Regions from separate parts of the Homo sapiens genome. Here region 1 is linked to region 2. Evidence: fine-mapped expression QTL. Tissue or cell type: whole blood. Region 2 holds a variant in brackets; the other region holds the start of a gene. Each region is shown on its reference strand, or each on the opposite one.

Evidence for each region.
Region 1: POLDIP3 starts here. The variant in region 2 is fine-mapped to the expression of POLDIP3 in whole blood (TOPMed, PIP 0.94).

What each region holds. Positions count from the first base shown.
Region 1 is chr22:42,613,801-42,616,714 of GRCh38, reverse strand. POLDIP3 (DNA polymerase delta interacting protein 3) reads left to right here and starts at 1,832. Exons shown (of 9, transcript NM_032311.5): 1 at 1,832-1,916. The coding sequence starts at 1,858. RNU12 (RNA, U12 small nuclear) reads right to left here and starts at 1,471; the gene lies at 1,322-1,471. LOC124905127 (a long non-coding RNA gene) reads left to right here and starts at 1,936. Exons shown (of 2, transcript XR_007068118.1): 1 at 1,936-2,914. RefSeq lists enhancers at 845-974, 1,625-1,684, 1,765-1,944, 1,437-1,980, 1,981-2,524 and silencers at 1,415-1,474, 2,015-2,344.
Region 2 is chr9:122,583,314-122,586,227 of GRCh38, reverse strand. OR1L8 (olfactory receptor family 1 subfamily L member 8) reads left to right here and starts at 2,844. Exons shown (of 5, transcript NM_001004454.2): 1 at 2,844-2,907. The variant C/T (reference allele first, on the strand shown) is at 1,342.

The DNA of each region.
Region 1 (2,914 bases), not on the chromosome of region 2:
GTGGCGTGCGCCTGTAATCCCAGCTACTCGGGTGGCTGAGACAGGAGAATCGCTTGAACCCGGGAGGCGGAGGCTGTGGTGAGCTGAGATTGTGCCACTGCACTCCAGCCTGGGCGACAGAGCGAGACACCGTCTCAAAAATAAAAATAAAATTGTCCTCCGCATCTGCCCTACACTGCCCAGCTGACCCCACTGGCCAGCCTGTCCTCCTCCCACCTCTTGCGCGTTCCTCCTGGCACGCCTGGAAGGGAGGAAAGGCTTAATGGTCCCGTTCTATGGGTGAGGAAAAGAGGTCTGGGAAGGAGCCCGGCGTGGTGGGGCGGGCCTGTAATCCCAGCTACTCAGGAGGCTGAGGCAGGAGGATTGCAGGATCGCTCTTACCCAGTTTCTTTCTTTCTTTCTTTTTTTTTTTTTTTTGAAACGGAGTCTTGCTCTGTCGCCTAGGCTGGAGTGCAATGGCGCGATCTCGGCTCACCGCAACCTCCGCCTCCCGAGTTCAAGCGATTCTTCTGCCTCAGGCTCCTGAGTAGGTGGGATTTCAGGCCGTGCCACCGCGCCCGGCTAATTTTTTTCTTTCTTTTTTTTTTTTTCAGTAGAGACGGGGTTTCTCCGTGTTGGCCAGGCTGGTCTCGACCTCCTGACTTCAGGTGATCCACCCGCCTCAGCCTCCCAAAGTGCTGAGATTACAGACATGAGCCACCGCTCCTGGCCTCTTACCCAGTTTCTGCACGGAGCTCCTGATGCCTGATGGCCAAGAGGACATAACCCCACCTGTTCTAAGGGCATGGAGTGTATTTTTAGAGTGATTGGACAAAATATGTGCCGAACACCTACGTCAGGTCTGGCGCATGCTGGAGGCTGGGGTTATATCAATGCAAAAGCCATTCCCTGTATTTAACACGTAAATGAATTAGTCTCTTTAACTCTCCCAACGCCCTATAAATTATTTGCTCCATTTTACATATTAAACGCTGTCACGAACTGAGCTGCTGTGTGAGGCCGGGGCCGGACTTATCTTTCTGAAGCACAGAGAAGCGGTTATACGCAGAAGTTTGGGAGAACTGGGTAAGGCCGCACACATGGAAATTGCCAGTTTCGTGGGTCCCAACGTCAATACTGTGGGCAACCTTAGACCGGCTCAAAGCGCAGCTGGGGACGGTGATGAAGTGCAGAGCGTCCACAGCCAGCGACAAGACTGCCAAGCAACTGGCAGCCTGAGTAACGGAGAAAACAACGAAAAAAACGCATTCACCACCTACCAACAAGAAACAAAAAACACGACCACCCCACAGTCAGTCTACTTTTTAGGCGTGAATAAGGTCGGGCAGATCGCAACTCCCAGGCATCCCGCAAAGTAGGCGGGTCACCTTGAGGGCGACCTTTACCCGCTCAAAAATTCGTCTCACATTAGCAGTGAGGATTCGGGCGTCACCCCGAATCGTTATTTTCCTTACTCATAAGTTTAAGGCATAAGGACGTTTTTAGTTTATTTCCTAGGTAATGAATTCTATTCTCATTAGGCGTATGATGACTATCGTAGTTGACTGTTGAGGTCATGATCCAGTTCCATTGAAGTTTGTCTCACTTGTTAATAATGTATTTTGTTGCTTTTCATTTAATTTTTTCCCTCGAGGAAAATAAATAATTCATAATGTGCCGAACTTCCGTATGCAGATGAGCAGCCAGCACCGCGAAGGCTCACGGGGAACGTCCCCGCCCCTTCCGGTTCTTGCCTGCTTTGAGCTGGCTGTCGCGAGAGTTGGTCCGCGGACGCCGGAAGTAGTTCGTCGCTCCCTAGCGGCCGAAGGGGCGGGCTCGCGGGGTCTCGACTGCTTTCGGCTTGCTCGGCGGAGCAAGATGGCGGACATCTCCCTGGACGAACTCATCAGGAAGCGCGGGGCGGCGGCGAAAGGACGGTGAGAGGCCTTTCCTTTCTTCGGGGTTTAGGGTCCTCGGCCTAGTGGAGCTCGAGGCGGGGGAGGTAGCGATCCGGGAGCGACGCGGAGGACCGGGTGCGCCCGCCCCCGACCACAGCCGCGCTCCTCATTGGCCGGCTGCCGCCGTCCCCGCCGTGGCCCCGACCGCCCGCCCACTGGCCGAGGCGCAGTCCCTCTGGCGGCCCTGGGAGGCCGACGGGGCCGCGGCGGGGACAGGGTGCCGCCTCGTGGACCTGAGGGGCTGCCCCCTGGGGCCCCCGCGTTCCGGGGTCCTGGGGTCTCGGCGGCGCAGCCTCCTTGCCTGTGTGGACTGGCATTTGGGCCCCGCTCCGTGATCTCGGCGCTGCCTGGTCTCCACCCATCTTAGAGTTGAGACAACCGAAGTTTAGTAGCGGGGAAGTGACTTGCTCCGACCGCCGAAGCTGAGGCGCAAGCCCAAATCCCCCTGCACGCGGCCCCTGTTAACACTCGCCTCTCTTTGTGCGGCGTTTTAAGTTTTCTGAGCCCTTTCATATACACGATGCCTCATTTAATCTTTTACAGTCCTGTTGTCTGCTAGCTATTCATGTTACCCACCTTTTACTGATGGGGAACTTGAGGCTGGAAGTGGTAGAGTGACTTGCCCGAGGCCACGGAGAACTGAGCGGCGGGCTGAGCGCGATTTAATTGCTGGCTGAGTTGGCCTCCTACATGGGCTTGAAAAACTGGTGTGTTGGGCAGGAGATTGGTTATTTCCTTAGGGAGAAGAAAGTGCTTGAGCTGGCTGAGGAGCCATGGAGGTGATTTGCAGTCATGTCTCCCAAACTTCCCCTAGACCCTTAAATGTTGTTAGTCATTTCAAGCCTTCGTGAGCTGAGTTCATCTGTATGAAGAAGTGAGAACTTTGCCCAATAGTTTCCCAACACACATTAAGTTTAAATGTCTTTGTAAATAGCCAGGATGTAAATATGTTAGATATTGTTTTCTCAGACATTTGT
Region 2 (2,914 bases):
TATGCAAGGTATATCTCTTCATTTATTTGAATCTTCTTTAATGCTTTATAGTTTTTAATGTATAATATGTTCACATATTGTTAAATTTGTCCTTATGTATTTCTTAGTTTTTATACTGTCATAAATTTCATGTTAAAAATTTAAATTCTCAATTGTTCACTGCTAGGACATGGGAGTTCCATTGATTGAAACTGGACTCCTATCTCTCACTTTGTACAAAAATTAACTCAAGATGGATTAAAGACCTAAATGTAATACCTGAAACTATAAAAATCCTAGAAGAAAACCTAGGAAATTTTTTATGAATTTAAAATAAATTTATTAACATATAATTCACATACAATAAAATTTACTTTATAACAGTATAACACTTTAAAAAGTGTTCCATTTAGTTGTTTTTAGTATAGTCCCAGAATTGTGCACCCATCACAACTGTTTAGCATTAGAATATTTTCATTACCATAAAAACTAACCCTGCACCCATTAGCAGTCACTCCCATTTACCTTCCCCGTGGTGCTGGAAACTACTAGAGGTACATCAAAATGAATGTTCCACCCAGCCTTTTCTAGTGATACTTTCTCCAGCCTCAGGTAGTTTATTCACACACATGTTCAGATCTAAACCCAGTCAAAGGCCCAAGAAAGCCCACCAGAAAATATCTGATATTTCTCTCTGCACAATTTCCTTTTTTCTGGTATTGTCCCAAGAATTCTAGCTTTCTTGGCTTCCCTGGCCAACATGGTGAAACGCGGTCTCCACTAAAAATACAAAAATTAGCTGGGCGTGGTGGTGCACACCTGCAGTCCCAGCTACTAGGGAAGCTGAGGCTTCCCTGGTCTTCAAACATTGTCTCCTCAACTAAAAGAGTTTGCTGGAATATTTTTGATTTTTCCTTTCTACAGTGAAGCCTGGAAATGCTCTCCAGATAGTAGGACTGAAAATAAGAAAGATCATCCCTAAGTTTCCAACCTTGTTGAGGATAGCTGTTTTGCATAGCCTTTTAAAAATAGCTTTGTTCATATAATTCCTATACCATAAAATTCAGTGTAATTTCAGTAAATTCAGTAAATTTAATTCAGAGTCGTAAAATTCTCCCAACTATCTCATTTTGAAACATTTTCATAACCCAAAATCTAGTACCCATTAGCAGTAAGTCATTATTCTACCTTGTCCCCAACCCCTAGGAACAACCCATCTACTTTCTTTCCCTATGGATTTGCCTCTTATAGACATGTCATGTAAATGGAATCATATAATGTGGCCCTTTTATACTAGCTTCTTTCATTTTGCATAATGTTGTATATATATACACACATTATATACATATATACACACATATA[C/T]ACACACACACACACACACACACATATATATATATATATATATATTTTAGACAGTCTTGCTCTGTCACCAAGGCTGTAGTGCATTCGTGCAATCTTGGCTCACTGCAACCTCCACCTCCTGGATTCAAGCAATTCTCATGCCTCAGCTTCCCTAGGAGCTGGAAGTGCAGGTGTGCATCTCCACGCCCAGCTAATTTTTGTATTTTTAGTAGAGATGGCGTTTCACTATGTTGGCCAGGCTGGTCTCGAGCTCCTGGCCTCAAAAGATCCGACCCCCCACCCCCGCCTCCCAAAGTACTGGGATTACAGGCATGAGCAACCATGCCCAGCCCATGTTTTCAAGGTCTGTCCATGTTGTAGCATGAATCAGTACCCTCACAGACAAACCCAGGAGCAATACTGTGCATCCTTTAATCCAATCACGTTGACACTCACTATTAACCATCACAGTTGACTAGAAGTGGCAAGTACTGTCATCTTTATCTAGTTCTTGATCTTAGGAGGAAAGCACTCAGTATTTCACCCTAGAGTATGATGTTAGCTGTGAGGTTTTCATAGACGCCTTTTATCAGGTTAAAAAAGTTTTCAAGCTTTCCCGGCTTGTTAAGTGTTTTATCATGAAAGGGTGTTGAAGTTTGTTTGATGCTTTTTCTTCACCTATCAAGATGATCATATGGTTTTTTACATTTTTATTCTTAATATGGTGTATTACATTGATTTCTATAACTTATGAATATATATTTTACTACCTATTATAAATATATTTACATAGCTGATTTAAAGTCTTTGTTTAGTAATTCCAACATCTGGACTACCTCAGAAACAGTTTCTATCTTTCTGGCTACATTTGCCAGGTATTTTTTTTTTAACTAGATATGGGGTCTCACTTTGTGGCCCAGGTTGGTCTCAAACTACAGGGCTCAAGTGAGCCTCCCACCTCAGCCTCCTAGAGTGCTGGATTACATGCTAGCTTTTGTTGTTGCTTTTTTTAGGAGCAGATTTTCTGAAGTCCTTACACTTCAATTCTGAAAATTCTATCTCCCCATGCTACCTTTTTCAATATCTAAAATCACTTGCTTTGTACATTTTGTCTGGCTTTCCTGATGTTTATTTATTTACTAACTAATGTTCACACTTTATTCCTAGTTCCTTACTTTTTCTTTTTTCCTTTTTTTAACACAGAGTCTTGCTCTTGTCACCCAGGCTGGAGTGCAGTGGCACGATCTCTGCTCACTGCAATCTCCACCTCCTAGGTTCAAGTGATTCTCCTGCCTCAGCCTCCCAAGTAGCTGAGATTACAAGCACACACCACCATGCCCGGCTAATTTTTTTTTATTTTTAGTAGAGATGGGGTTTCACCATGATGGCTAGGCTGGTCTCAAACCCCTGACCTCAGGTGATCCACCAGCCTCGGCCTCCCAAAATGCTGGGATTACAGGCGTGAGCCAGTGCGCTCGGCCTATTTCCTTACTTTTAAAATCTAATATCCTTTTTTTGTGTTCCAGGATCCCATCGAGGATATTATATTATATTCAGTCATCCTGTCTCCTTCGGCTTCTCTTGACTGTGAGTT